2 separate regions of the Homo sapiens genome follow, and region 1 is linked to region 2. Evidence: fine-mapped QTL for protein levels in blood plasma. A gene starts in region 2. The other region holds a variant in brackets. All regions are shown on one strand. Distances are from middle to middle.

What was found. A credible set is the group of variants that fine-mapping cannot tell apart. PIP is the chance, under the fine-mapping model, that this variant and not a neighbour inherited with it causes the effect. Protein levels are from antibody-based Olink assays in UK Biobank. Linkage for the fine-mapping came from a reference panel and not from the study's own genotypes, which makes the PIPs less certain.
Region 1: its variant is the best candidate, but not a certain one, in a credible set for the plasma level of the ADAMTSL5 protein (UK Biobank, PIP 0.53).

The regions. Positions count from the first base shown.
Region 1 is chr19:1,528,148-1,543,720 of GRCh38, forward strand. It overlaps PLK5 (polo like kinase 5 (inactive)), which reads left to right. Exons shown (of 14, transcript NM_001243079.2): 8 at 155-281; 9 at 751-827; 10 at 1,259-1,343; 11 at 1,600-1,677; 12 at 3,591-3,736; 13 at 5,784-5,894; 14 at 6,918-7,899. The coding sequence ends at 7,103. Among named protein-coding and RNA genes, the nearest start is that of PLK5, 12 kb to the left of the region's middle. The variant G/A (reference allele first, on the strand shown) is at 7,203.
Region 2 is chr19:1,505,138-1,520,710 of GRCh38, forward strand. ADAMTSL5 (ADAMTS like 5) reads right to left here and starts at 7,882. Exons shown (of 12, transcript NM_213604.3): 1 at 7,826-7,882; 2 at 5,708-6,023; 3 at 5,502-5,593; 4 at 5,231-5,291; 5 at 5,013-5,121; 6 at 3,306-3,433; 7 at 2,861-2,972; 8 at 2,420-2,506; 9 at 2,105-2,268; 10 at 1,602-1,791; 11 at 1,453-1,524; 12 at 1-1,179. The coding sequence starts at 5,806. The coding sequence ends at 878. LOC107985337 (a long non-coding RNA gene) reads left to right here and starts at 12,265. Exons shown (of 3, transcript XR_001753835.2): 1 at 12,265-12,382; 2 at 13,155-13,299. LOC124904609 (a long non-coding RNA gene) reads left to right here and starts at 2,855. Exons shown (of 2, transcript XR_007067084.1): 1 at 2,855-2,979; 2 at 3,527-3,977. RefSeq lists an enhancer at 2,607-3,456 and silencers at 2,781-2,980, 7,707-8,076, 8,916-8,995.

The DNA of each region.
Region 1 (15,573 bases), 23 kb after region 2:
CTCGGCGTGGGGTCCCTGGCGTGGGGTCCCTGGCAGGTGATGAGCCAGAGCCTGCCCTGCTCAGCCGAGGGAGGCCCCGCCCTGTCCCAGGTAACCCAGGTGCTCAGGGGCTGGGTGACCTAAGCCGGGGATAACCCCAAATCCCCATCCAAAGGGTTTCACTCCAGACCGGCTGCCGGCCCACTCCTGCCACAGTCCCCCCATCTTCGCCATACCCCCGCCTCTGGGCAGGATCTTCCGGAAGGTGGGCCAGCGGCTGCTCACCCAGTGCCGGCCACCCTGTAAGTACCACCCCCGCCCACACCTGCCCAACACCTGCCCACGCCTCCCACCTGCCCACACCTCCCACCTGCCCACGCCTCCCACCTGCCCACACCTCCCACCTGCCCACGCCTCCCACCTGCCCACGCCTCCCACCTGCCCACGCCTCCCACCTGCCCACGCCTCCCACCTGCCCACGCCCCCCACCTGCCCACGCCCCCCACCTGCCCACACCTCCCACCTGCCCACACCTCCCACCTGCCCACACCTCCCACCTGCTCACACCTCCCACCTGCCCACACCTGCCTACGCCTGCTACCTGCCCCCACCTGCCCACACCTCCCGCCTGCCCACACCTCCCACCTGCCCACAACTGCCACCTGCTCCGCTCTGTCTCCACATCAGGGGTGGGTGTGGGTGGCAGGTGCCCCCCTACCCCCAGCTTGGGGCCCAGGCTGTGCCCCCTCCAAGGCCTTGTGCCTCCCTCAGGCCCCTTCACGCCTAAAGAGGCCTCGGGTCCAGGAGAAGGTGGGCCAGACCCTGACTCCATGGAGTGGGACGGCGAGGTGAGACATCGGGGTGGGGGACACGGGGAGACACAGGTGGAGGGCATGCTGGCCCCTGCTAAAACCCCCTCCCCCATGCCGGCTTCTCTGAACCCCTTCTGGGGTCTCCAAGCCCGGCCCCCTCCCCCTAGTCCCGTCCTGACGCATCAGAGCTGGGATCCATTTGTGTCCAAATGTGCCCACCTGGGCTTTCCCAAGGGCCGGGCTCGAGGCCATGGGAAGGGTCCCATCCATGGCTTCAGTCCATCACATTTATTGAGCACCTACTGTATGCCTCCGAGACACTCCGAGGCTGCCTCCCAAGGGGAAAGCAGTGCCTCTGTGTGCAGAGCACGGAGGGCACAGGCAGGGGCCAGAGCCTGCCACCCACCTCACGCCTGTCCCTGGGGCTGGGGCCGGGGCCACCCCCACCCCTGCTGCTCCCACCTCAGAGCTCCCTGTCTGCGAAAGAGGTTCCCTGCCTGGAAGGCCCCATCCACCTGGTCGCACAAGGGACCCTGCAGAGTGACCTGGCCGGTGAGCAGATCCCCGTCCCAGCCCGGGGCTGCAGGTGGGGAGGGAGGAATTACAAGTGACAGGGGGACCAAGGCCGTGGCTTACCAGGGTCACAGCCGCCGTCCCGGCCTCACCTTTCCCGCCTGTCAAATGGGAATGCCGCCTCTGGGTTGAGGATGAGATGTTCCTGGATGGAGCCGTGGGGAGGGGGACTGGTTGGAAGAGCCTGGTGGTGGGAACCCAGACCTGTCTGCGGCACAAAGACCTGTCTTCCCAGGGCCCGAGGGGAGCCGGCGGCCAGAGGTGGAGGCGGCCCTCAGACACCTGCAGCTGTGCCTGGATGTAGGCCCCCCGGGTAGGAGCCGGCCCAGCCCCCAGGATCACCTTTACTCTTACTAGCCAAGTAAAATTGCCTTCATTCCCATCCTGGGCCCTCCTGGGTATTTCTGGGGGTGAGGAGTAGGGGTGAGGGAGGCCCCAGGACACGGTGACATCAGGAGAGTGGGTTAGCCCTCCTGTGTGCAGAGCCTGGCACGGAGGGCTCTGCGGCAGCCTTACGTTTCACGGTCTCTTAAATTCATGACCCGGGCTCGTTAGAGACCCAGTGAGTGAGGAAACGTGACCTGGGACGTTGGACACAGAGCCCTGTGCCCACAGGCCACACTCCAAAGGGGGACCCCTCTTATCCCCAGTGTCCCAGAACCCAAACCCTCTTCCTCTCCCCTCCTCTCCCTGAGCCTCCACTGACCCACACATACTGCCACCCTTAGAGAGGGAGCCCCAAACCCCACGCCAGGTCTCCAGCCCAGAAGCCTTTTCTTTTCCTTTTCTTTCTTTTTTTTTAAGAGACGGAATCTCACTCTGTTGCCTAGGCTGGAGTGCAATGGTGCCATCTTGGCTCATCACAACCTCCACCTCCTGGGTTCAAAGCGATTCTCCTGCCTTAGCCTCCCGAGTAGCTGAGATTACAGGCGTGTGCCACCACACCTGCTAATTTCTGTATTCTTTTAGTAGAGACAGGGTTTCACCATGTTGGCCAGGCTGGTCTCGAACTCCTGACCTCCGGTGATCTGGCCGCCTCAGCCTCCCAAAGTGCTGGGATTACAGACGTCGTCAGCCACCACGCCTGGGCGCATTTTTTTTTTTTTTTTTTTTTTTTTTTTTTTTTGAGACGGAGTCTCACTCTGTCGCCCAGGCTGGAGTGCTGTGGCGTGATCTCGGCTCACTGCAAGCTCTGCCTCCCGGGTTCACGCCATTCTCCTGCCTCAGCCTCCCCAGCAGCTGGGACTACAGGCACCCGCCACCATGCCCGGCTAATTTTTGTATTTATAGTAGAGACGGGGTTTCACTGTGTTAGCCAGGATGGTCTCGATCTCCTGACCTCGTGATCCGCCTGTCTCGGCCTCCCAAAGTGCTAGGATTACAGGTATAAGCCACCGCGCCCAGCCTCAGGACCCCATCTCTACAAAAAAATGAGCCGGGCATGGTGGTGCATGCATGTTGTCCCAGATACTCAGGAGGCTGAGGAAGGAGGATCACTTGAGCTCGGAGGTGGAGGCTGCAGTGAGCTGAGATCGTGCCACTGCACTTCAGCCTGGGCAACAGAGCGAGACCCTGTCTGAAAAGCCAACAGACAAACAAGCAAAAACCCAGAAACGGGGCAGGGCGTGGTGGCTCATGCCTGTCATCCCAGCACTTTGGGAGGCTGAAGCAGGTGGATCACAAGGTCAGGAGATCGAAACCATCCTGGCCAACATGGTGAAACCCCATCTCTACTAATAACACAAAAATTAGCTGGGTGTGGTGGCACGTGCCTGTGATCCCAGCTACTCAGGAGGCTGAGGGAGGAGAATCGCTTGAACCCAGGAGGCGGAGGTTGCAGTGAGCCGAGATTGCGCCACTGCACTCCAGCCTGGGGACAGAGCAAGACTCTGTCTCAAAAAAACAAAACAAAACAAAACAAACAAAAACACACACACCCAGAAATGTGTAGTATTTTCAGAGCATTGCAAGTATTTGAGAATTGCTCATTCCCAGGGGTGCGCCAGTATCCCACAGTCTCCCTCTGCAAGCCAGAAATTAGTTACGGTTCCGTGGCTTCTGTTGATGTCTGGTCTCCTAGAATCCACCACCGAAGCCCCCAAGCCTCTGTCCGGTCCCCGCCGTGGGAAGGGTCTCACCCATGGTTTCAGTCCATCACATTTATTGAGTGCCTACTATATGCCTGACCCCTGACCCCTGGCTCAGCATACCTTTGTTTGTGCCCAGCCACACAGGACCCCCTGGGAGAGCAGCAGCCCATCCTCTGGGCCCCCAAATGGGTGGATTATTCCAGCAAATACGGCTTTGGCTACCAGCTCTTGGACGGGGGGCGCACGGGACGGCACCCACATGGCCCTGCGACCCCCCGGAGGGTAAGTTGTGGCCTCCTGTGCCCTGGGGGACCAGGCACTCCCCCTGCCTTTTTTCATTCATCTCTCAAGTATTTATTAAGCACCTACTGTGCACACCTACAGGTGCTCCCTGCCTGGTCGGGGAGAACAACACTAAACGAATCAGCAAGTGCGTTTCTGTAGTAAATGAACCCAGTGAAGAGGCAGATTAGGAGGGGAGGTGAATCTCAGTAGTGTGGGTAGGGGGAAGGGGAAGGGGTCTCTGAGAAAGTGACGTGAATGACAAGCGGCAGCCCTGTGCTTTGGGAGGCCAAGGCAGGATTCCTTGAGCCCAGGAGATCGAGATCAGCCTGGACAACATAGCAAGACCCCATCCCTACAAAAATTTTAATAATTAGCTTGGTGTGGTGGCACACACCTATAATCCTGGCACGTTGGAGGCTGAGGTGCGGACTCGCTTGAACCCAGCAGTTTGAGATCAGCCTTGGCCTCATAGCAAGACCCCATCTCCACAAAAAAATTAAAAATTAGCTGGGCGTGGTGGTGCACACCGGTAATCCTGGCACTGTGGGAGGCTGAGGTGGGAGAATCACTTGAGCCCAGCAGTTTGAGATCAGCCTGGGCCACACAGCAAGACCTTTCTCTACAAAATTTTCTTCTTTTTTTTTTTTTTTTTTTGAGATGGAGTCTCACTCTGTCACCCAGGCTGGAGTGCAGTGGCGCAATCTCGGCTCACTGCAAGCTCCACCTCCCGGGTTCACACCATTCTCCTGCCTCAGCCTCCTAAGTAGCTGGGATTACAGGTGCCCGCCACCACTCCTGGCTAATTTTGTATTTTTATTAGAGACGGGGTTTCTCCATGTTGGCCAGGCGGGTCTCGAACTCCTGACCTCAGGTGATCCACCCGCCTCAGCCTCCCAAAGTGCTGGGATTATAGGCATGAGCCACCGCGCTCAGCCACTCCTGGCTAATTTTTTGTATTTTTAGTAGAGACGGGGTTTCACTGTGTTAGCCAGGATGGTCTCGATCTCCTGACCTCGTGATCTGCCCGCCTCGGCCTCCCAAAGTGCTGGGATTACAGGCGTGAGCCACCGCGCCTGGCCAAGTTTTTTTTTTTTTAAATTAGCCAACTGCAAGGGTATGCATCAGTAGGTCCCAGCTACTTGGATGGCTGAGGTGGGAGGATCACTTGGTCCCAGGAGGTCAAGGCTCCAGTGAGCCATGATTGCACCACTGCGCTCCAGCCTGGGTGACAGAACGAGACTCTGTCTCTTTTTTTTGAGACGGAGTTGTGCTCTTGTTGCCCAGGCTGGAGTGCAATCTCGGCTCAGCGCAACCTCCCCATCCCGGGATCGGGGTAGCTGGGATTACAGGCACCCGCCACCACGCCTGGCTAATTTTGAATTTTAGTAGAGACGGGGTTTCTCCATGTTGGCCAGGCTGGTCTCGAACTCCCGACCTCAGGTGATCCTCCCACCTGGACCTCCCAAAGTGCTGGGATTATAGGTGTGAGCCACCGCGCCCGGCCTTAACACAATCTTTCTAGCGGGAGTGACATGGGGGCCAGTGGGGAGGTGGCTGGACTCATCAGGTGGGCAGTGGCGGAGGCCTGGGCTGTGCTGGTGACCGGGGAGGGATGAGAGGGGCTGCAGTGTGGATAGAGTTGGAAGGCAGGAAGGGTGGACCAGCTGTCAGCTGAGGTGAAGAGAGGACAGAGAGCCGCACTGGGCATATGGATAAGGTGTAACTAGGGCAGAGCTGCTCTTTAAAGCCACCATTCCAGGGGGTGTAGGTCAATGGAAGGGTGTCCACTGGCCTGGGCTGTCCAGGACAGAGGCCCTGTGTCCTGGCCCCAGCCAAGTGTGCTACATGCCCAACTGCGGGAGGCTGGAAGCCTTCGCCCTGAGGGATGTGCCCGGCCTGCTGGGCGCCAAGCTGGCCGTGCTGCAGCTCTTTGCCGGCTGCCTGCGGCGGCGGCTGCGGGAGGTGAGAGCTGGGGTGCTGGGTGTGGGGGCGAGGGGTGGGGACGCCCCCTGCGTCACGTGACCTCAGCCGAGTCTGTCCACAGGAGGGGACCCTCCCCACACCTGTGCCACCTGCTGGACCCGGCCTCTGCCTCCTGCGCTTCCTGGCCTCTGAGCACGCCCTGCTGCTGCTGTTCAGCAATGGGATGGTGCAGGTGAGCCCGGGGCTCAAACTCGGGGCACTGGGGCTCGGCAGGGTGGGGTCTGGCCTGCCTGGGCTGTTACGGAGCAAGCTTTGGGGGAGCCTTAGGAAGCATTTGCCTCCCAGGAAAAAAAAAAAAAAAAAAGGTATTGGCTCCTGCGTACAAAACCACAGCATGGAAAATGCATGACGTTTTTGGGCCAGGCACTGTGGTCCACACCTCTAATCCCAGTGCTTTGGGAGGCCGAGGCGGGCAGATCGCAAGGTGAAGAGTTTGAGACCAACCTGACCAACACGGTGAAACCCCATCTCTACTAAAAATACAAAAATTAGCTGGGCGTGGTGGAGCCTTCCTGTAATCCCAGCTACTCAGGAGGCTGAGGCAGGAGAATCGCTTGAACCTGGCAGGCGGAGGTTGCAGTGAGCCGAGATCACGCCACAGCACTCCAGCCTGGGCGACAGAGCAAGACTTCGTCTCAAAAAAAAAAAAAAAAAGGCCGGGCACGGTGGCTCACGCCTGTAATCCCAGCACTTTGGGAGGCCGAGGTGGGCAGATCACGAGGTCAGGAGATAGAGACCATCCTGCCTAACACGGTGAAACCCCGTCTCTACTAAAAATACAAAAAAAAAAAAAAAAAATTAGCCGGGCGTGGTGGCGGGCGCCTGTAGTCCCAGCTACTGGGGAGGCTGAGGCAGGAGAATGGCGTGAACCCGGGAGGCGGAGCTTGCAGTGAGCCGAGATCGCGCCACTGCACTCCAGCCTGGGTGACAGAGCAGGACTCTGTTTAAAAAAAAAAAAAAGTCAGGGTCTTGCTGGAAGACTGTGGGCAGGGGAGCCCCCATCTGAGCCTCAGTTTCCCCAGGTGTACAGTGGAGCACTTGGCCTCCCGACCCCGAGTTCCTGTGGCTGGGGCAGGCACTAGGGGCCAGACTGGGGGCTCTGGGTCCAGTGTCCACTTGTCCTTCTGGAGCGCCACGGCTGGAGGCAGGTGCAGGGGTACCCGTCTCCCCTTGACTGGTATCTTACCCTTTGCAGGTGAGCTTCAGTGGAGTCCCGGCCCAACTGGTGCTGAGTGGCGAGGGTGAGGGTTTGCAGCTCACCCTCTGGGAGCAGGGGTCCCCTGGCACCTCCTACTCCCTGGACGTCCCGCGGAGCCACGGCTGCGCCCCCACCACCGGACAGCACCTTCACCACGCCCTCCGCATGCTGCAGAGTATCTAGTGCCCCTGAGGGTCAGAGTGGACCCCTGCATGGTAGTGCCAGGGACCCAGGCTCCATTTCCATTCCTGTGGCTCCCCCAGAGGGGCTGTCCTGGGGGAG[G/A]GCTGGGGGGCACACGGGAGGTGGGTTCTTGCCTTGTGGCATGACTGTTCAACCCAGACTTTGCTGGGATCTCTTCCTTTTTCATTAAAGACAATTTGAAATGCTGTAGGCCATGGTCTGCCTCTCTTTGGGGGAAAGCGTTTGAGGAGCTTTGGCAAAGAAACGTTGACCCCACGTGACGTTGCATCCTCCCTGTTTCTCTTAGTGGCAGAGGTGGGTTACATTTTCACTAATGCAGACATTAGCACCAGAGGCCAGTGTAGTGGCTCATGCCTGGAATCCCAGCACTTTGGGAGGCCAAGGCAGGAGGATCGCTTGGGCCCAGGAGTTTGAGACCAGCCTGGGCAACATGGCAAGACCCCATCTCTACAAAAAATTAGCTGGGCATGGTGGCACGTGCCTGTAGTCCCAGCTACTTGGGAGGCTGAGATGGGAGGATGGCGTGAGCATGGGAGGTTGAGGCTGCAGTGAGCTGTGATTGCACCACTGCACTCCAGCCTGGGCGACAGAACAAAGACCCTGTCTCAACAACAACAAAAGTAGTACCAGAAGTGGGGTTCTGCCATAACTCCAAATCTAAAACATGGGACAGTTGCTTAATGGGTGGACAGGAAAGAAGCCGACACTGAGGCTGGAAAGATGGCTGGCTATGCTCCGGGACACAGTTGGCACAACCGTCACCTGTGCTGCCCTGGGGTGGACGGTGCACTCATGGACCTGACCTCTCTGGGCTGATGGAGCATTGGTTGTTAGATCAAAATGTCATAAAAGGCCAGGCGTGGTGGCTCACACCTGTAATCCCAGCACTTCGGGAGGCCAAGGCAGGCAGATCACTTGAGCTCAGGAGTTCGAGACCAGCCTGGCCAATATGGTGAAACTCCGTCTCTACTAAAAATACAAAAATTAGCTGGGTGTGGTGGTAGGGGGCCTGTAGTCCCAGTTACTCAGGAGGCTGAGGCAGGAGAATCACTTGAACCCAGGAGGCAGAGGTTGCAGTGAGCCGAGATTGCACCATTGCACTCCAGCCTGGGCAACAGAGCGAAAATCCCTCTCAAAAAAAAAAAAAAAAAAAAAAACTGGACGCAACCTAAGTGTCCAGCGGTGCGAGACTCAAACATCTGGCCATCCCCTGGGATGAGTGAGGCTGGGAAAGTGGGAAGGCTCACGGGAGGCATTAAGGCAGGCCGAGGGGTGCAGAGCTGATGACGGAAAAACCCGTCAATCGCAGAAGGACTCCAGGCCCCTCAGTAGCTCTTTTGTTTTTTTTGAGACAGAGTCTTGCTCTGTCGCCCAGGCTGGAGTGCAGTGGTGCGATCTCAGCTCACTGCAACCTCCGCCTCACGGGTTCAATAGATTCCTCTGCCTCAGCCTCCTGAGTAGCTGGGATTACAGGCATGTGCCACCACGTCCGGCTAATTTTTGTATTTTTAATAGAGACAGGGTTTCATTTGTTTGTTTGTTTGAGACGGAGTCTCACTCTGTCGCCCAGGCTGGAGTGCAGTGGCACGATCTCGACTCACTGCAACCTCCGCCTCCCGGGTTCACGCCATTCTCCCGCCTCAGCCTCCCGAGTAGCTGGGACTACAGGCGCCCGCCACCAAGCCCGGCTAATTTTTTTTTTTATTTTTTAGTAGAGACGGGGTTTCACCATGTTAGCCAGGATGGTCTCGATCTCCTGACCTCGTGATCCGCCTGCCTCGGCCTCCCAAAGTGCTGGGATTACAGGCGTGAGCCACCGTGCCCAGCCTAGAGACAGGGTTTCACCATGTTGGTCAGGCTGCTCTTGAACTCCTGACCTCAGGTGATCCTCCCACCTCAGCTTCCCAAAGGGCTGGGATTACAGGCATGAGCCACTGTGCCTGGCCCCCTCATTAGCACTTGAGGCCACAATTCTCAGTGCGAGGCTCCTGGGCTGTGCTTTGGGCGTCTGCTAAGGTGCTCAGAGGTGTATCCTATGCTGGAGAAAACTCCACCTCGACCGATGCGGGATCAGGAGACCGGGGCTCCAGTCCCAGCTGGCCACTTCCAGGCACATCCAGGCCTCAGTTTCCCTGCCTGTTTAAGGGGGGCATGTATTCTCTGGAATCCCTGCCAGCAGCATGATTCTGCATGAAGTTCTACTTCCAAGTTCCGGTTATCAACCCCAGAAACTCATCATAAAAGAGGGAGAAGTGGCTCATGCCTGTAATTCCAGCAGGCTGGGAAATTGAGGCAGGCGGATCACTTGAGGACAGGAGTCTGAGACCTGCTTGGGCAACATAGGAAGACTCTGTCTCTACTAAAAATTTAAAAGCCAGGCCTGGTGGCACATGCCCGTGGTCCCAGCTACTCAGGAGGCCCAGGTGGGAGGATTGCTTGAGCCCAGGAGTTCGGAGGTACAGTGAGCTATGATTGCACCACGGTACTCCACCACTACTCTGGGTGATAGAGCAAGACCCTTTCTCAAAAAATAAAAATAAAAAATTGGCTGGGTGCCGTGGCTCACGCCTGTAATGCCACCAATAGACAGATCACCTGAGGTCAGGAGTTCGAGACCAGCCTGGCCAACATGGTGAAACCCTGTCTCTACTAAAAATACAAAAATTAGCTGGGCGTGGTGGTGAGTGGCTGTAATCCCAGCTACTTGGGAGGCTGAGGCAAGAGAATCGCTTGAACCCAGGAGAGAGAGTTTGCAGAAGGCGCCACTGCACTCCAGCCTGGGCGACAAGAGTGAGACTTCGTCTAAAAAAGAAGAAAAAAGAGAGACATTCCTGGAGGTGCGCACAAAAGGGCATCATTGACATCTGGAGTGCAGTGGCATGATCTCGGCTCACTGCAAGCTCCGCCTCCTGGGTTCACGCCATTCTTCTGCCTCAGCCTCCCGAATAGCTGGGACTACAGGCGCACGCCACCGTGCCCGGCTAATTTTTTGTATTCTTAATAGAGACGGGGTTTCACCGTGTTAGCCAGGATGGTCTGGATCTCCTGACCTGATCCGTCCGCCTTGGCCTCCCAAAGTGCTGGGATTACAGGCGTGAGCCACCACGCCTGGCCACCTTAGCCTCTAGAATAGTAGTAGTTCTCGGCCGGGCGCTGTGGCTCATGCCTGTAATGCCAGCACTTTGGGAGGCCAGCGTGGGCGGATCACGAGGTCAGGCGTTCAAGACCATCCTGGCCAACATGGTGAAACCCCGGCTCTACTAAAAATACAAAAATTAGCCAGGCGTGGTGGTGTATGCCTGTAATCCCAGCTACTCGGGAGGCTGAGGCAGGAGAATCACTTGAACCGGGGAGTCAGAGGTTGCAGTGAGCCAAGATTACACCACTGCACTCTAGCCTGGCGACAGAGAGACACTCCGTCTCAAACAAAAAAAAAAAAAAAAAGAAAGAATAGTAGTTGTTCTCAATGGTGGGGGGGGGGGTGATTCTGTCCCCAGGGGACACTGGGCTATGTCTCGGGACATCTGTGGTCATAATGACAGGGAGTGCTCCTGGCATGGAGTGGGTGAAGGGCAGGGACGCCGCTCAGCACCCTGCAATGCCCAGGACAGCCCCACCCCAGAGAATGGCTTGGCCCCAACATCCATAGTGCCCAAGAGGAGAGACCCTAGCTTGGACATAGGAACTGAAATATTTACAGGCTTAGTGTTTAATTCCTAAAGCGGATTTCCTCTGTAATCAGGGAAAAAAAAAAAAAAAAAAAAAGGAATGAAGTGGAGAAACGGCACTCCCGGGAGACGTTGCACATTCCCAAGCCCACGCTGCACCTCACACGCAGCGGGGAGCAATGTCCCCGTAGTGGCCCCTCGTCAAGGTCAGTGATGCACGGGGCGAGAGAGGGGTTGAGGTGGGGATGGCCTCCTGCCAAGCACAACGTGTCCTGGGGCCACCCATCTGCAGGCAGAGCGCTCCACCACTCAAATGGGGGCGTGATGAGTCCGAGGCCACCCAGGTCTGAAGCTTCCCAGGGGCCCTCCTCACAGCCCTTTCCCTTTGGAACCATAGTCTATCAATTCTGAAAGTAAAATGCAGACTTTTCTTTTTTTTCTTTTCTTTTTTTTTTTTTTGAGACAGGGTCTCACTCTGTAGCCCAGGCTGGAGTGCAGCGATGCCATCTTGACTCACTGCCCCCTGTGCCTCCCGGGTTCAAGCGATTCTCCTGACTCAGCCTCCCAAGTAGCTGGGATTACAGGCATGCGCCACCACACCCGGCTAACTTTTGTATTTTTAGTAGAGATGAGGTTTCACCATATTGGTCAGGCTGGTCTCGAACTCCTGACCTGTGAGCCTCCCGCCTTGGCCTCCCAAAGTGCTGGGATTACAGGCGTGAGCCACTGCACCTGGCCTCCTTTCTTTTTCTTTCTTTCTTTCTTTCTTTCTTTTTTTTTTTTTTTTTTTTTGAGACAGAGTCTCACTCTGTCGCCCAGGCTGGAGTGCAGTGGTGTGATCTCAATTCACTGAAAGCTCTGCCTCCGGGGTTCAAGCAACTCTCCTGCCTCAGCCTCCTGAATAGCTGGGACTACAGGCATGTGCCACCATGCCCAGATAATTTTTGCATTTTCAGTAGAGACGGGATTTCACCATGTTGGCCAGGCTGGCCTTGAACTCCTGACCTCGGGCAATCTGCCCACCTCAGGCTCCCAAAGTGCTGGGATAACAGGCATGAGCCACCGCGCCTGGCCCATTTCTTTTATTTTTATTTATTTATTTTTTTTTTTGAGATGGAGTCTCACTCTCTCGCCCAGGCCGGAGTGCAGTGGCCGGATCTCAGCTCACTGCAGCCTCCGCCTCCTGGGTTCAAGCAATTCTCCTGCCTCGGCCTCCTGAGTAGCTGGGACTACAGGCGTGTGCCACCACACTTGGCTAATTTTTGTATTTTTAGTAGAGACGGGGTTTTACCATGTTGCCCAGGCTGGTCTTGAACTCCTGACCTGAGGCAATCCACCCGCCTAGGCCTCCCAAAATGCTGGGATTACAGGCGGGAGCCACTGCGCTTGGTCTGGATGCCGTTTCTTTGTCACAAAATTGCAACCTTAACAAATCAAACTCAAGTCCCAGGGTCCACCACCACCTGTCCCTGGGCCCCCTCTGTTTCTGGGAAGTGACAGGGTCTCCTCTTTTTTTCCCATCTGTTTCCTATGCTTACTTTCCTGGAGAGAATAACTGACCCATGGCGGCATCCCCGCGTCGCCTCTCGGCCGTGTGCCTGTGTGTGTTGCTGCGTCTGTGGAGATAGAGCCAACTCTGTGCTTTTTATGGAACGGGGGATGAAGCAAAGCCAGCGTTTGTGGATGGGAGAGAAAATACGACCAAAACAGACACTGGGGCCCATGTTGGGAGTAGAGAGGGCTGCAGGCACGCTGGGCTGGGGTGGGGGGAGGAAGCAGGGGGACGGGTCAGGGGAGGTCGTGTGCCTTGGTGTGGCCAGACCTAGGAGGAGGGATCAGTGGGGAGAATTTGGAGATGCCCCCAGGGACCCCAAAGGAATGGAGTGTGGGTGAGAGAGGAACAAAAGCAAGCAGAGAAAACACAGAGCAAGTGCATCACTGCCTTTAAAAACAAAATGAGCCGGCCGGGCGTGGTGGCTCACGCCTGCATTCCCAGCACTTTGGGAGGCTGAAATGGGCTGCTCACCTGAAGTCAGGAGTTTGAGACCAGCCTGGCCAACATGGTGAAACCCCGTCTCTACTAAAAATACAAAAATTAGCCACCTGTGGTGATACACACATGTAGTCCCAGCTACTCGGGAGGCTGAGGCAGGAGAATGGCGTGAACCCGGGAGGTGGAGCTTGCAGTGATTGAGTGATTGGAGATCACGCCATTGCACTCCAGCCTGGGCGACAGAGCGAGTCTCCATCTCAAAAAAAAAAAAAAAAAAAGTTTGTTGTTATTGCAAGACACCAAGTTGTTGTTGTTGTTCTTCTTCTTCTTCTCCTTCTTCTCTTTCTTCTTCTTCTTTTTTTTTTTTTTGAGACAGTTTCTCTCTGTCGCCCAGGCTGGAGTACAGTGGTGCAATCTCAGCTGACTGCAACCTCTGCCTCCCGGGTGCAAGCGATTCTCCTGCCTCCCGAGTAGCTGGGATTACAGGCATGCACCACCATGCCTGGCTAATTTTTGTATTTTTAGTAGAGACGGGGTTTCACCATGTTGGCCAGGCTGGTCTCGAACTCCTCACCTCAGGTGATCTGCCCGACTCTGCCCCTCAAAGCGCTGGGATTACAGGTGTGAGCCACCGCGCTCGGCCTCTTCTCTTTTTTTATAGAGAGAAGGAGTGTCGCTCCGTCACCTAGGCTGGACTCAAACTCCTGGTCTCAAGCAACTCCCCCGTCTCAGCCTCCCAAAGCACTGGGATTACTGTGAGCCACCGTACCTGGCCCAGACACCAAATGTGAAGGTAACTTGTGACCCGGCAATAGCTAACTAATACACAACCCAAAACATGCAAGAAACAGCTTCATTTCTGCCCGGAACATTTGTTTCCAGGGAGAAAAAGACAAAACATCTTCAGAGTGTTTAACTGGGTGTCTTGCAAAATGACCTACCTAGAGTATTTATTTCCATCTGCTTGTGGGCGTCAAGAACAGCAACAATCTGTGCCGTCTCCCACGCCCCGAGCCCACAATGGTGGTTTATTAAAAATAAACCAACCACAGAATATATTAATTTTCTAACCTCCCGGGCCAATTCTTATTTCTAGGTATAAGAACTTCCAGAGATGGCAAAGCACCCACACCGCCCTCGTGCTAAAGTTTCTGGAATCTTCCTTAGACGGGTGAACTGTGTGCTGCCAGAAATAAAATTAATAGCCTCACTTTTTTGGGTGCTTACAAGGGTTGGAACTTCAAGAAATGGTCATGAATTCACTCCAGCCCTGGCTCAAAGATTTTTTTTTCTTTCTTCCCTTCTTCTTCCTTCTTCTCCCTACTCCCTTCTCTTCCTCTTTCTCCTCCTCCTTCCTTCTCCTTCTTTTTCTTTTTGGAAACCACTGATTTAACCCTGAGAGAGGGAAAACTTGTCCTGGCAAGAATTTCCAAAGCTCAGTTTTATTTTTTAAGACAAAGTCTCGCTCTTGTCACTCAGGCTGGAGTGCAGTGGCGTGCTCTCGGCTCACTGCAGCTTCCGACTCCCTGGTTCAGGAGATTTTTCTCGTGCCTCAGGATCCCAAGTAGCTGGTACTACAGGCGTCATCATGCCCGGATAAATTTTCTACTTTTAGTAGAGACGGGGTTTCACCATGTTGGCCAGGCTGGTCTCGAACTCCCGACCTCAGGGGATCCACCCGCCTCGGCCTCCCAAAGTGCTGGTATTACAGGCGTGAGCCCCAGCGCCCGGCCCCAAAGTTCCGTTTTACCCTTTTTCCCACGCTGAGGCTACAGCTGAACCCAGCCTCCAGACCACCTCCTCATTGGTCTATGGGAGCACGTGACATCATGCGTCCTCCAATCACCAGCAAGCAAGCAAGGCGTGGGCGGGACCAAGGGCGGCTACCTCTGGGGCCAGCAGGATTGGCTGTTGCCCGTGGTAACTGTGTGTGACGTCATAAAGCTTCCTTGCACCTTGGCAAGGCCCCGGGAGCAGGGACCTTTTCTCTCCCACTATACAGATGGGGACACTGAGGCGCTGGTTCTCAATCTATGAAAAAATGGGGTGCTGGTAGGTAGGTCAACCTGGGTCCCACGGGGAGTTTTCAAACTCCTGATGACTCCAGAGAATTACGCTGAGTGAAAAAAGCCTGTCCCGGCCGGGCGCGGTGGCCCACGCCTGTAATCCCCGCACTTAAGGAGGTCGAGGCAGCCGGGTCACAAGGTCAAGAGATCGAGACCAGCCTGGCCAACATGGTGAAACCCCATCTCTACTAAAAATACAAAAATTAGCCGGGCGTGGTGGCGGGCGCCTGTAGTCCCAGCTACTCGGGGAGCTGAGGGAGGAGAATCACTTTCACCACGGAGGCGGAGGTTGCAGTGAGCCTAGATCACGCCACTGCACTCCAGCCTGGGTGACAGAGTGAGACTCCGTCTCGGGAAAAAAAAAAAAAAAAAAAAATTAGCCGGGCATAGTGGGGTGTGCCTGTGGTCCCAGCTACTCAGTTGGCTGAGGTGGGAGGATCACCTGAGCCCAGGAGTTCCAGACCACCCTGGGGAACATAGTGAGACCCCATCTCTATAAAAAATTAGAAAATTAAGGCCAGGCGCGGTGGCTCACGCCTATAATCCCAGCACTTTGGGAGGCCGAGGCGGGCGGATCAGGAGGTCAGGAGATCGAGACCATCCTGGCTAACACGGTGAAACCCTGTCTCTACTAAAAATACAAAAAATTAGCCGGGCGTGGTGGCGGGTGCCTGTCGTCCCAGCTACTCGGGAGGCTGAGGCAGGAGAATGGCGTGAACCCGGGG
Region 2 (15,573 bases):
CAGGAGGATCGTTTGAGGCCAGTAGTTGGAGAGCAGTGTGGGCAACGTAGCAAGACCCCATCTCTACAAAAAATTTAAAAGTTAGCCGGGCATGGTGATTCACACCTGGAGTTCCAGCTGCTGTGGAGGCTGAGGTGGGAGGATCGCTTGAGCCCAGGAATTTGAGGCTGCAGTGAGCCATGATTGCACCACCGCACTTCAGCCTAGGTGACAGAGCAAGGGTCTACCTCAGAAAAAAAAAAAAAGGAGGAGCAAGCACGTGTTGATGGGTGGAAATCCAGCCAGAAATGCTGAGGCTGAAAAGATTGTCTCCGAGTTTCCTGGTAGCCAGGGGAAAAGGGGAAATTGGTACGTTGGTACGTTACAGTGCCTGGTTAGGCATGTCTTCTAAGGGGCATGCCTGTTTGTGACAGTGTCTCTGCCCTTCACACATGAGGGTGTGTGTGAGTAGCAGAGAGCAGAGACAGCACAGTGTCTGGGAAGTAAACAGATGATCTTCTGGGTACCCAGGGCAGCAGGGTGTCATGCTCGTTCATGACAGTGTCTCCAAGCAAGTGTGACGCGCGCAAAGAGAAAGAAAGCAGCGTTAAACTTTCTGAGTATAAATAGCTATGAGCTTCCTGGCAGCCAAGGAGAGAGGCGAAATAAAAGTCAGAGTCTCCTTAGTGCCTCCTCACCAGTGCCTGCCGGCTTGTGACAGTGGCTTTGACTGCATGCAGAGGTGTCTTAAGCGTGTGTGGGAGGGAGTCACATAGCTGCACAGGTGGGACGTATTTCAGAGCTGCCTGGAAGCCAGGGTGAGAGGGGAAATACGTTGACGTTGAGGCTGGTCAGATGTATCTTTCTTGCTGTGTGTGGCCGGGGCTCCTGCAGGGGCTCAGCCAGGACAGCGCCGGGCAGTCAGGCGTATGCGGCTGTCCTCCGCAGGGCTCCAGGGCCGGGCGTAGCCGGCGTGGGGCAGCAGCAGCTGGTCCTGTGTGCCGTCGGGGCTGACAAGACGCTGGACAGCCATCAGGTAGTCCCGGTGGGGTGCCAGCATCGGGCAGGGGCAGTGGCCTGGCGCCCACACGTACTCGCGTGCCCGCAGTGGCGAGCGGTTCTTGTAGACGAGCTGGATGCGCACCTCATAGCGGGTCTCCTGGGCCTGGTGGTGGTGGCCCAGCACTCGGGCCTGGAACACTGTTGAGGGGACGTGCTAAGCTGGCTGGCTGCTCAACTCTGCGCAAATCTCTACGCCCCCTCCCTTGCCAGAAGAGGGACTGAGGGTCAGGTGGGACCTCGGGATCTATAGGGACTAGAGTCAGGATCACGTCAGGGATCAATGAGGGATTAGGGTCAAGAGGCAAATTAGGATCAGAAGAAGGGGTCAAGGGTAAAGTCAGATTAGGGTCAGAGGTCAGGAGGAGGCCAGGTTAGTAGGGGCTAAGTCAGGGTAGAGGTCGGGGGTCTCACCAAAGTCACTGCCGCAATAGTGGAGTAGTCGGTGGGCGCGGCCGCGGGTGTCAGGGCAGGGTGGGCAGGGGTCTGTGGGATGGGCGGTGCTGTGAGGGGCACAGGCCTCAGTCCCCACTCATCCCCCACCCTGGCTGTCCCCACCTCACCTGGGGCCAGCGTTGGGGTCTGTGCAGGGGTGACAGCAGGGGCTGCGGGGGGCTGAGGCTCCACCCCCCGGGGCTGAGGCTGCCTCAGGGGCCAGCCCAGGGCCTGCACACGAGCCTGGAAGGGGCTGTAGCGCTCCCGAGGGAGCCAGAACTCAAACTCGATGCCAGGGTTGGGCTCCTGCAGGAGGACCTGGAGCAGGGGAGGGGACACAGGGAGCTTCACAGGAGGCTGGGGTTGCCTCCTGCCTCTGACCCTACGACCCCAGCCTCCCCACTTTGATCCTGTCTGCCCCCAGCCTCCCTCCTCTGATGCTCTGTCCCTAGCTGATCCCCTCTGACCCTGTCCCCACCCTCCCCCCTCTGATGCTCTGTCCCAGCCTCTCCCCTCTGACCCCAGACTCCCCCTTCTGGCCCCAGTCACCTCCACTCCTACCCTCTGTCCCCAGCCTCTCCCCTCTGTCCCCAGCCGACCCCCTCTGACCCTGTTGGAGGCCCAGTGGCACCTGTAGGAGCAGGTCATGGGAGGTGGGCCCGGCTGCTTGCAATGTCTCCTGGGGCCCTGTGTCTCGGGTGTAGACCACATGCGTGCCGGCCGCCTCGTAGGTCCCTGGTGGGCTGACCACCCAGTGCCCATTAAGCACGTAGCGCCCATCGCCCCCCATCAGTGCTGCAAGGGAACAGTCAGCCCTCAGGAACCTGTCGTCTCGTCTCCCAGACCCTGGGGTCCCCTCCTCAGGCCTCAGTCTCCCCATCTGTAAACAGGGACAACCGCCCCCGGGTGCCCAGCCGGGTGCCTCTCGCCTCACATCCTAGGATACCCAGGTGGTTGCGGCTCCTGTGTTCCACGCGGATGTGTCTGGCGCCCTCGGGGATCAGGGTCACGTTCCAGTACCCAGCGAAGGCACCTGGGTGGGAGGGTAGGAGGGTGTTGGGGTGCCAGTGGGGGTGTATTTGAGCGATGACTTGAGGATTTAATGAGCTACTGCGGGTAAGACAGCTAGCCAGGGTCCTGGGAACCGGAAAACCCTCCGTAAACGTTTGGAGTTACAATTACTATTGCTTCAGTGTGGCAGGGAAAGGGTTAAAACCCCATCTGTCCTGGGGAAGGGCGGGACAATCTGTCAGTAGCCAATCAGGATGAGGAGAAAGGGGGGCTGGGCCGCACACTGGCCAATCAGCACGGAAATTTGCTTCCGGGCCACGGCTCGTTAAAGGGCCCACTCTGACGTGTGTGCAGGGAGGGCGGGGCAGGTAGTCACCGGCGTCACGAAACACGCGCTGCACGAAAAGGCACGAGTCGTTGGCGCCTCCGCAGCGGCCACAGCGGTCCTCGAGGGCACCCGAGCCCAACAACCCATCACAGCCGGCGCTCTAAAGGGTGAAGGACAGGCGCGGCGTCACTGACGCTGGGAGGGGCAGGACCTGGGGAAAGGGCAGTGCCTGGGAGCAAGAGGACGAGGCCTGGAGGGAAGATGGGGGTGGAGCCTAGGGAGGAGCAGGACCTGGCGGGAGGAGGATGGGCTTGGCGCCCGGGAGTGGGTGCCTAAGGGGGGCTGGGGGCAGGGCCTGGAAGGGGAGGGGGAAGGCGGTGGAGCCTAGGGAGGGGGTGGAGGCTAATGGGAGGAGGGCGGAGGTGGAGCCTAGGATGGGTGGGGCCTGAGTGGGAGGTGGGCGGGGCTCGGGCGGGGCCTGACGAGTCCTTACAAGGCAGCGGCCAGCCACGCAGACCCCCTGGGCACCCGGGCTGCAGGCGGTGCCGTCCAGGACGCGGCCGAAGCTGTGGTAGAAGGCGTGCCCCTCAGCCAGGCAGTTGAGGTCGCACTGGTTGGGCGCTGAGGGCAGGAGGAGTCGGTGGGCCGGGGACCCCTGTTCGAGCTCCAGTCCCCCTCTACCAAGCTTCATCAGGCAACCATCACTTTGGGCAGATGAAGCCCAGAGATTTGGCCAAAGCCACACATCGAGGCTGAGGCAGAGCCAGGACTGGACCGTAGGTGCTCTGCGTCCAGCAACCTGGGACTCGCAGGCAAGTATCCTGGGGCTGCATTCATTCATTCATTCATTCATTCATTGTCTTTATATTAGGAGTCCTTACATATTATTCATTTTTAACACCATTACTCATTCTTCATTCCACTGAACACCTACTGTTTTCCAGACACTGTTCCAAGCTCTAGGATACAGAAGCAAGAATTCAATCAGTGTGCAGATGGATGGCCTTAAAAAAGGCCAGGTGTGGTGTCTCATGCCTGTAATCCCAGCACATTGGGAGGCTGAGGTGGGCAGATCTCCTGAGGCCAGGAGTTCAAGACCAGCCTGGGCAACATGGCGAGACCCCCCCGTCTCTACCAAAAATACAACAATAAAAATTTAGCCAGGCTTGGTGGTGGGAGCCTGTAATCCCAGCTACTCCGGAGGCTGAGGCAGGAGAATCGCTTGAACCAGGGAGGTGGAGGCTGTAGTGAGCCAAGATCATGCCACTGCACTCCAGCCTGGGTGACAGAGCGAGACTCCATCTCAAAAAAAAAAAAAAAAAAAAAAAAAGAAGATCTGAGCATCTGGCCCAGGCACCAGCAAGTACCCAATGAAGTGTTTGTCCAGTACTGACTGGACTGAGTCCCGCACAACTGAGCTGTGTCGCTGGTCCTCCCTGGGCCTCAGTTTCCCCTTCTGCCTGGAAGTGGGGCAAAATGAGCTGTCTGATCAAACACAAAGGCCGACAGCCCTGATCTCCACTCCTCCTTCTCCAGCTCCTTCTGGCTCCCATTTCCCTGAGCCTGGCTGGTGGACCCTGCCTGGAACGGATCCTGGGCTGGCCCTAGTGGGCCTCTGCGGGGGTGGGATCACAGCAGGTTTCCTCCAATTCTCAGATTGATGGAAGGAAGGAAGGGAGGGAGGGAGGGAGGGAGGGAGGAAGGAAGGGAAGGGAGAAAGGGAAGGAAGGGAAGGAAGAAAGGGAAGGAAGGAAGGAAATGAGGTTGATGGATGGCACTTTGTCCATTCTAGGCTTTTCTTATATCTGTGTCTGCCTTCCCCATGGCGTGTGAAGCTGCCTGTCTCCCTGAAATCTGGAGGCGCACTGACCCGGGCACGTAGTTATATAACTCGCTATTTTCAGCTCAATGCAGCAACATTTCCTGCTACTGGGATAAGTTTGAGAAGTGTTGGCCTCTGGATACAGCTCTAAGTCAATCCTTAGTTGGGTGTTCAGCCCTGTGCAGAATGAACCCTGCTTCCCTCTGCCCCTGTTTCACGCCTAACATATGCTGTTTCTGTTTCACTAACTCCTACATATCCTTCAAAGCCCTAGCACTAATACCCTCTTCTCTTTGCAACCCTCCAAGACCCTCTCCCTGAGACTAATGAGTTGTTCGCTCTGGACCAATTCTGACCACAGGAGACCAGACTACTCACCCCCATGGAAGGGCACCCACTGGTAGGTCTTCTGGGTGCCCAGGACAGGGCGGCCATTGTACAGGGCACACTGTAGGTCTCGGAAGGGCACAGCCCCTGGGGGGCAGTCCTAGGGACAGAGATAGGTGAGCCAGAGGCTGGGACAACCCCAAGGGGCAGGTGGTGGGCTTCAGGCAGTCTGGGGTGGGAGAGTGGTCTGGGAGGTGGGCAGGGCTTACTGGCAACTGGCAGAGGCGGTACTCATGGGAGTCTCCCCAGCACGGTTCTTCCCCAGGAAGCCTGAAGGGAGACAGAGTGTGGCGAGAACCCCCAGGGACCCCCTCCCAGGGCTGGCCTTCCACCCTCCGCCCCCGCCAACCCCACCCGCATTCCAGCGGGATCAGGGGGATTAAAGGGCACAGCATGTGTGGGCAGGCCGAGGGTGCGGCCAGGGGCCGGGCTGGGCCGGCGGGGGAGGAGGGGCAGGGACCCCCTCCGGGCCCCGCTCACCGGAGGCAGCGCCGGCTGCGCACAGAGACGCCACGCCCGCAGGAGCTGGAGCAGCGGGTCCAGGACACCCACGGGGTCCACTCGCCCGGACCCTACTTGGGGAGACAGAGGCACGGTCAGCCTTGTAGGGGGACGCTGGTGACCCCACACTGCTGACTGGGTCCCCATTCCCACTCGCCACCCCCTGGGCTCATGCCCCCCCTTACCTGAGCACTGACCCCCAAACCACAGTTCAGCAGGGCCCACAGGAAGAGCAGGAGGTTCTGGAAGAGGTGGGGCCTGGGGAACAGAGGGGCCGAGTCCATAGAGCCACCGCCAGAGACACAGGGTTGTGTCCCGGCTCTGCCCTGACTGGCTGTGTGATCTTGGAAAGTAACTAAACCTCTCTGAGCCCTACCTCTCGTCTCTGAAAAACGGGGTAATAGAGCCTCCCTTACAGGAAAGTTGAGGGGTCCTGTGGATCAGGTAAAGAAGACAGGAGACGTGGAGCCCGGTATGGAGAGGAAGAACTCAGAATGTCATCTGCAATTATTATTGTTGTTAGTTAGTTTGTTTTTGAGACGGAGTCTCGCTCTGTCGCCCAGGCTGGAGTGCAGGGGTGCGATCTCGGCTCACTGCAACCCTCCCCGGTTCAAGTAATTCTCCTGCCTCAGCATCCCGAGAAGCTAGGATTACAGGTGCCTGCCACCACGCCGGACTAATTTTTGCCGTTTTAGTGGAGACAGGGTTTCACCATCTTGGCCAGGTTGGTCTCAACCTTCTGACCTGAAGTGATCCACCTGCTTTGGCCTCCCAAAGTGCTAGGATTATAGGCATGAGCCACTGCACCCAGCCTACAATATTATTGATATGTGTATTGTGCTATAATGCAGACAGTAGGTGCTTAATCGATGCTTGATGATTGGAGGGATCATTCAAAAATAGTACACAGGTGCCTCCTAGGGCTGGGGCCCCCTCCCCGCCCTCCCCACCATCACTGCTTCTACCTTTCCGTGTGGCCTGAGGCCAGCCACTCCACTCTCCCAGGCCTCAGTTTCCCCATCTGTGCAGTGGGGGCCAAGTGGACTCAGTCCATGATTCTGTGACACCCTGCGGAAGGTGCGGCCGGCAGGGGCTGGATCAGGAGTTGGGTCCCTAGAAGAGGCCCTCAGCTGCACCCCGGCCCCAGGGCTCCCTCAGCTCCCAGACAGCAGGGAGTCCCCCGGATTGGGGATGGGACAGGGAGGGGGTGACCTGGCCCAGGTCCGTTCGGTGCCTCATGGCCTCATCGGCGGAGGGGGTGGGACTGAGCTCCGGGGCAGCCCGTGGAGGGAAGGGGCCACTGCTGAGGCTGGAGCAGGGAAGGGGAGGAGGCTGACTGCCTCTCTGGGCCTTAGTTTCTCCATCCTGTCAGGGCAGGGATGAAGTCACTTGCCATCCACACCCTCCTCATGACCCCAGCCTGCAGGGGGAAAGAGGGGGGAAGGGAAGCAGCCGCCAAGTGAGCCAGGGCGTCCTGCTGCCAGCAGAGCCTGAAGGCAGGTGGGTGAGCCCCGGCCCGGGCACCAGCTGGGGAAGAGGCTGGGTCCCACCTGGACCCTGTTTCCCTGGCTCCAGCATTTGGACTTCTGAGGCACCAAGGGTCTAGGGTCCTGGGTATCTCTAGGTACTGAGACAGCTGTGTGGTCTGCTGCATCCGTGCCCCTCTCTGAGCCTAGAGCCTGGGCTGGCCCAGGAAGCAGGAAGAAGTCTGCACCAGAAACTTAAAACAAGGGGAGGGGGGCCAGGTGCGGTGGCTCACGCCTGTAATCCCAGCACTTTGGGAGGCCAAGACAGGCGGATCACCTGAGGTCAGAAGTTTGGGACCAGCCTGACCAACATGGTAAAACCCCATCTGTACTAAAACACAAAAATTAGCCCGGTGTGGTGGTGCACACCTGTAATCCCAGCTACTTGGGAGGCTAAGGCAGGAGAATCGCTTGAACCCAGGAGGCGGAGGTTGCAGTGAGCCGAGATGGGGCCAATGCACTCCAGCCTGGGCGACATAGTGAGACTCAGTCTCAAAAACAACCAACCAACCAAAAAAAACAGGGGGAGGGGGCTTGACCTTCTGACCACCCCCACCGGACTCTAAGCCTGGTTTGAGGAGTGGGGGTCTAGGTGGTGAAAAGTGGGGGGCTACAAGGACCACCCTACCCCCTCCTCAATGGGCCCTGCCCAGAATCAAGGCTCTCCCCTCCCCGTGTGGGCTGCAGCCCGGACTGGCGGAGGGATCTCAAGGCAAGCCGCACCTCTGGGCCTCAGTTTCCCCCGGAGAAAGTGGGAGGATAGGCAGATGGACTTACCGGCTGCGCGGAGCCCAGGCAGCGCGTCCCGGCTCCCTGAGCGGCCCCAGGGCGAGCGGAAGCGGCGGGGCCCAAGGTGCTGGGCGGGGTGGGGAGCCTGGGACGGTCCCTCCCACCGCGGCCTCCGCAGGCGCGCCCAGGCCCGGGTCAGGAGGGGCGGCGGCCCCGGGCGCCCTCGCGCGGCGGGCGCGGATCTGCGGCAGGGGACTGCCCGGCGGACGCGAGCGCAGGGGTCCCGGAGCCGCAGGCTGGTGTCGGGCGCCCGGGTCCGGGTGACCTTGGCAGGCTCGGGCGGGGGCGCGGCGCGGGGACTGACCGCCCTCCTCTGCCCCGGGGCTGCTATTCCGGGCGCCGCGCTCAGGGCCCGGGAATGTGCGCGAACCGAGGTCACCCCGCCCTGGGTCTGGGAGTCCCGGGCGCTGCCCCTACCCCGCCGACGCCCGGATTGCGTCCCACCGGCGTCCCCATCCCCGGTCACAGCCCCCTCCCCTGGTCCTGCCCCTCACCCCTCTCGCGGGGGGTCGACCTGCTCGTGGATGGGGACCCTGGCGCGCCTGGGCTCCCATCCGGGGGTTCCCCGACCCAGGTCCCGGTCACCCCCAGCGCAGGGCCCCAGCGCACTGGGGAGAGGCTCGGCCCCGTGGGCCGCGCGCGGGGGGCGGAGAGACCCTCCCAGCTGGCGCATTCCCGGGCGCTGCTGTCACCAGGGGACGCGCCCCACCCCGCCTCCCGCCCTCCCTGCCGGGCCCCGGGGCTGCCAGCGGGGCTTCAGAGCCAGACCCGGGTCCAGGCGGTCCCTCTCCCTCACAGCCGCGGCCACACCCTCTCCGGCCTCAGTTTCCCCATCCCAGCAGTGGGCCCGGCAGGGATCTCCACCGCGAACCTTCCATCTGGAATCCGGCTCTGCGCGGACCGGCAACGCGAGGGGGCACCCCGGGACTCCCCCCACCCCACCCTTTCCCGCCGGGCGTCTGTGAGCCGCCCCGTGCCCACCCACGCAGGGATGAGACCAGGCCCTGGGTTCTGGGCTCCACCAGTTTCTGGTGTCGCCCCACGGCGCCCCCTGGCGGGCGGGCTGAGGGACTGGGGCACTAAAGGAGGGGGTGGAGGGACTGTCCTGCTCCCTGGGCTCCACCCAGGCTCGGTCTGAGCACCCCCTCCTCCAGGAAGCCCACCCTGCTGTCCCACAGCGCTGACCACAGGGAGAGAGGTTTGCTGGGGACATACAGGGTGTTGCTGGTCCAACTCAGTCTGCCCTCCAGCCTGTAGCATGTCAGCAGAGCCACCCATATGCCATTTATTGAGCACCTACTGTGTGCACAGCTGTGAACAACCCAGCCAGTCCCAGGCCAGCGGGTAAGGCAGCCCCCTGGAATGTATGACCCCCCACCTTCTGACCTGGACTATTGGAGAAAATAGCCCAGGCCCACCACTGATGGCCCCAGGTTGGGGGGTGGTGGTTGCGGGGATGTCAAGAAGGCCCTCACTGAAGGGGTCAAGAGAGAAGGGCAGGCCGGGCGCGGCGCCTCATGCCTGGAATCCCAGCACTGTGGGAGGCCGAGGCAGGCGGATCACCTGAGGTCAGGAGTTTGAAGCCAGCTTGGACAACATGGTGAAACCCAGTATCTACTAAAAATATAAAACTTAGCCAGGCATGGCGGTGAGTGCCTGTAATCCCAGCTACTCGGAAGACTGAGGCACGAGAATCGCTTAAACCCGGGAGGCAGAGGTGGCAGTGAGCCGAGATCACGCCACTGCACTCCAGCCTGGGAGACAGGCGAGACTCCGTCTCAAAAAAAAAAAAAAAAAAAAAAAAGGAAAGAAAGAAAGAAAGAAGTCAGCTCAGGACATGTGTCAATGTGTCATTAGGACAATTGTATCCTCCTCAGATGTGCCCCATTCCCAGATGTCCAGTCCACAGAGCTCCACTGGGAGTGCAGACAGCAGGCCCTGTGCCCCGCAGGGAAGGTATACAGAAAGCACAGCGCCCACAGGGAGCACACACAGCAGGCATTATGCTCTGCAGGAAGGGTATACAGCAGGTGCTGCATCTTGTAGAAATGCATAGAGTAGACTCTGCCCTGCAAAGGAGTGTATACAGTAGATATGGCACCTTCAGAGGAGTGCATACAGCAGTCACTGCATCCTGTAGAGAGTATATACAGCAGGTGCTGCATCCTGCAAGGAAGGTATACAGCAGGTGCTGCATCCTGCAAGGAAGGTATACATAAGGCGCTGTCTCCTGCAGGGAGCGCATACAGTAGGCACTGAGTTCTATGGAAAGTGTACCCCGCAGCCCCTGTTCCCTCCTGGGAGTGCATACCGCAGCCACTGCACCCTGCGTGGGGGCTCTAGAGCTGGCAAGATTGGCAGAGGTGGTGGTGAAGATGTGGAGGGCTGCCCCCCACCCCCAGTTCTTGTCCCCTACCGTCTCCCACCTCTGTCCTCTGGATGTCCCTAGGAGGAGGCTGGGAGCTCAGCCTAAGACACCCGGTGTAGGTGGAGGGGGTGGCTGCTGAGGCTCAGAGGCTCCTGGGGTCCCAGTTGGGCGGGGTCCCAGCTTACTACATTCCCCTGCCCTTGCCTGGACCCTGACCCAGGAATCAGCCGAGTCCCCCTACTCTGAATTTCAGCCTGGACCCCCTCCTTGAGGCAGCGTCAGGGCTAGAGGGGAGACTGAGACGCGGGTCCCGGCGGATGTGGATCAATTAGGTTCCATTTCCTTCATGGTTGTATGGCCTTGAGGCTTAAGGAATGCCGCGATCTGCTGTGTGACTGGGCTACAGTGAACAGTATGGTACCCCACACTTCAAACTGTGTTCACAGGGTAGATTTCATGGTAAGGGTTCTTACCATAAAAGAACAAAAACAGTGGGACACAAGGGACCTCGGGAAGTGACAGGTAGGCCTGTCATCTTGAGTGTGGTGACTGCATATGTGCAAACTCATCAAATTGCAGACACTGGGCTGGGCACGGTGGCTCACGCCTGTAATCCCAGCACTTTGGGGATCCAAGGCCAGTGGATCACCTGAGGTCAGGAGTTCGAGAGCAGCCTGACCAGCAAGGTGAAACCCCGTCTCTACTAAAAATGCAAAACCTAGGACACGGTGGTCCCAGGATACCTCAACCTCCTGCGTGGACTGGGTGGGGCCTCCCCATCCCTGCCCCACAGACCCCTGGACCCCCCGGTCCCTGGGGCTGTCCGTCTGTTCCTGGGCACCAGCAGGGGCCACGCAGAGTTGGGACCCTCCCCGGCTGGAGTCACCCCATGGGACTCAGGGCCCTGGACCCTCCTTGGCCGCTGCTCGCCCGGTCCTCATTCTGTGCCGGTTTCTTGTGCACGCTCGGAATCTGTTCCCTGCAGGCACCCAGTGCCCCGGGCACCGTCCAGAATTCCTGGAAGAGACCTCTTGCTTTCTTACCCCACTGCCCAGGCTCCAGGCCTGTGACATGGCCTCCCCAGGGTGCCCCTTCCCCTCCACCTTCACGTGCTGAAAACCACCTGTTCTGTCACTTTCAGGCGACGTGGATCAGGTGGACTGGCCCACCTCCTCCATTGTGTATGACGTAACCCATGCTTGGCCAAACAGATAATTCCATCTCCTAGAGACGGGGATTGGCTGGGGGATGACCATGTGACCCAAGTGGGCCAATGAGAGCCTGCCCTGGGACTTGAACTGGGCCATTAGAGGAAAAGGTGGTTTCCCGTGGCTGGGGTGGGCTCCAGGGATGGCGTGAGTTGAGGTAGGCTGGACTTTCTTGACTGCTCGAAGAGATGCACTGTCTCAAGCAGATGCTGACAGACGGCAGCAAATGGAAGGGGCCAGATTTCTTTTTTTTCTTTTTATCTTTCTGTCCTTTTCTTTCTTTTTTTACTTTTTTTTGAGACAGGGTCTTGCTCTGTCGCTCAGGCTGGGGTGCAGTGGTGCAATCACAGCTCACTGCAGCCTTGACCTCCTGGGCTCAAGCGATCCTCCCACCTCAGCCTCCCATGTAGCTGGGACTACAGATGCATGCCATCACATCTGGCTAATTTTTTTGATCTTTAGTAGTGACAGGATCTTGCTATGTTGTCCCGACCCAGGCTGGTCTCAAACTCCTGGGCTCAAGAGATGCTCCTACCTCAGCCTTCCAAGTAGCTGGGACTACAGACATGCATCACCATGCCTGGCTAATTTTTATATTTTTTGTAGAGTTGGGGGTCTCCCCCTGTTGCCCAGGCTGGTCTCGAACTCCTGAACTCAAGTGATTCTCTTGCCTCAGCCTCCCACACTGCTGAGATTGCAGGCATGTGCCACCCACCGTGCCCAGCCCAAAAGTCTAGATTTCTGAGAAGGTTGTTTGAGTTCCTGGATTGAGCCTCATCTGAAGGCATTCATCCATTTTTTTTCACTTTAGCAATTTTTAGTTTCTTACTTTTTTTTTTTTTTTTTGCCAGGGTCTCGCTCTGTCATCCAGGCTGTACTGCAGTGGTGCGATCTTGGCTAACTGCAACCTCTGCTTCCCAGGCTCAGGCAATCCTCTGGGATCAGCCTCCCAAGTAGCTCGGACTACAGGTGAGTGCCATTATACCCAGCTAATTTTTGTATTTTTAGTAGAGGTGGAGTTTTGCCACGTTGCCCAGGCTGGTCTCAAACTCCTGAGTTCAAGTGATCCTCCCACCTTGGCCTCCCAAAATGCTGGGATTACAGGTATGAGCCACTGTTCCCAACCTTATTTTAGAATTTTTAAAAAATTTTTATTATTATAGAGACAAGGTTTCAGGAACGAAACTCCGTCTCAAAAAAAAAAAAGGTGATAACAATTACTATTTCATGATTATTGACTAAATTCCAAATGTTATTTTATTTGGATTTGGATTTCACCAGGCTTGTTTTTTTGTTTTTTTTTTTTTTTTCAGATGGAGTCTTGCTCTGTCTCCCAGGCTAGAGTGCAGTGGCGTGATCTCGGCTCACTGCAAGCTCTGCCTCCTGGGTTCACGCCATTCTCCTGACTCAGCCTCCCAAGTAGCTGGGATTACAGGTGTGTGCCACCACGCCTGGCTAAATTTTTGTATTTTCAGTAGAGACAGGGTTTCACTGTGTTAGCCAGGATGGTCTCGATCTCCTGACATCATGATCCACCCACCTCGGCCTCCCAAAGTGCTGGGATTACAGGCGCGAGCCACTGCACCCAGCCTTTTTTTTTTTTTTTTAAACAAATGTCCTTTTTCTGTTCCTGGATTCCATAAGACATTGAACTATTTGTCTCATAATTAGTAAAAAGACCCATGCAGATTAAAAATGGATTATTTCTGTGGTAATCGGGTGGGTTCTGATGCCCATGCAGCACCTTGAACACGGCTGGAGTTGATGAGTATCCCTGATGGGAAGTCGATGCTGCGTCCATGGAGAGAAGGGGCACGGGGTTGAGTGTCCACCCAGCACCTAATGGAGATACAGACCCTCTCCCTGCCACTGGCGCTCCCTGTCAGGTGGGACAGACACCAGCAAGCTAGCAAGGAAACCATCATTCTGGGTTGTGGTGGAACTGGGGAGAAGCAGGCATGGATCACGTCTAGGGCATCTTGGGGCAGGGGCGGCCTCCTGGGCACAGGTGGCCCTTTCCTGCCTGGGCCTAAAAGCTAAGAAGAGGATGCCAGGCAAAGTCTGGGAGGGTGGCAGAGGGAACAGCACATGCAAAGGCCCTGTGGCAGGGTGAGCTTGGTGTGCGTCTGAGGACAAATGGGAAGGCCAGAAGGTTGATGTCTTGGCCTTGTGTCCTCATCTTGGGTGGTCAACTCTGGGGAATGTTGTATTCAGTTCCTCAGAGGGTGCCTGATGAGTGTGGGACTCAGGGTGCCCCGGGGGTACCCAGCTCCCACCCTGCTCCCTGAACCAACTCTCTGCACTAAAGCCTTGCTTCAGGCTCTGCCTTTGGGGGAACCCACACAGATGGGCCAGGAGGGTTGAGTAACCTGCCCCAGCTGCCAGTGCTAAAGCCACCCACCTGGACAATGTCAGTGGAGGAAGTGAAGAGAGTGGGTGAGAGGCCCCAACACTGAACCCCAGGCTCCCAGGAGAAGGAGGAGGTGGCTTAAAGGAGAACTGGAAAAATGCATCCAGAAAGATGGGAAGGGGCCAGGCGCGGTGGCTCACACCTGTAATCCCAGCACTTTGGGAGGCTGAGGTGGGTGGATTACCTGAGGTTGAGAGGTCGAGACCAGCCTGACCAACATGGAGAAATCCGGTCTCTACTAAAAACACAAAATTAGCTGGATGTGGTGGTGCATGACTGTAATCCCAGCTACTCAGAAGGCTGAGGCAGGAAAATCATTTGAACCCGGGAAGCACAGGTTGTGCTGAGCCGAGATTGCGCCATTGCACTCCAGCCTGGGCAACAAGAGCAAAACTCCATCTGAAAAAAAAAAAAAAAAAAGATGGGAAAACATCAGGAGCAGGGGTGTCCCAGAGGACAAGAGAGGACGGTGCTTTTATTATTATTATTTTTTTTTTTAATTTTTTTTTTGAGAGAGAGTCTCGCTCTGTCTCCCAGGCTGGAGTGCAGTGGCACAATCTCGGCTCACTGCAAGCTCCGCCTCCCGGGTTCACGCCATTCTCCTGCCTCAGCCTCCCGAGTAGCTGGGACTACAGCCGCCCGCCACCACACCCGGCTAATTTTTTGTGTTTTTAGTAGAGACGGGGTTTCACAGTGTTAGCCAGGATGGTCTCGATCTCCTTACCTCGTGCTCCACCCGCCGTGGCCTCCCAAAGTGCTGGGATTACAAACCTGAGCCACCACGCCCGGCCACTTTTATTATTAATTATTATTATTATTGTTTTTGAGACAGGGTCCTGCTCTGTCACCCAGGCTGGAGTGCAGTGGTGCCATCACAGCTCACTGCAGCCTCAACCTCCTGGGCTCAAGCAATCCTCCCACCTCAGCCTCCCAAGTAGCTGAGACCACAGGCGTGCACCACTCCACCCGGCTAACTGTTTATTTTTTGTAGAGAAGGGGATCTCGCTGTGTTGCCCAGGCTAGTCTCAAACTCCTGGACTCAAGGGATCCTCCTGCCTCAGCCTTTCGAGTAGAGTAGCTGGGATTACAGGCATGAGCCCTGCATCTGGACAACAGTGCTTTTAGGAGGAAACAGAGTTGAGAGAGGGAAGAACAGGGCTTGGTTTCGGGGCACCAAGTCTGGACGCCCCCTCCTGCGCTCACACTGGGCCATGTCGTGCAGCATAAACCACAATCAGTGGGGGTCTCTGGAGCCCTGTGGTGGTGGTACGTCTCCTGCCTGCTCTGCTCCCAGGGCCATGGGTCCCTGGGCACCTGCGTGGTCAGGCGTCCAGGCACGTGAGACCCACGGGTGCTTGGTAAAGGCCAGGAGACCAGGCAGGGACCAGGGAGCTGGGCTGAGTCACATTGGTTGGTGGCCTCCACCCTGGCGCCTGCCGGAAGGAGGGTGCTGGGGAGGCCTGGGCCGCCGCTGACCTCGGAGGCAGCCCCATGAGCCTCCTGGGCCTCCAGGGAGTCGGGTGCCTGCTGTCTCAGCTGCCACGCCTCCACCTGCAGTAGGTATTTTGAGCAAAGCTTCCCGGCACTTCTCCGCAAAATCCGCTGAGTCTGTGGTTTTCTCAGGTCAGCAAAAGAACAGAGACTGGAGAGGAAATCGAGCCTGTGGTCTGGGATGTGAGAGGTGCTGGGGGTACAGGGGCTGCAGTGCTAGACCACCCAGGCCTCAAGAACCCAGGGCAGGGGGTAGGAT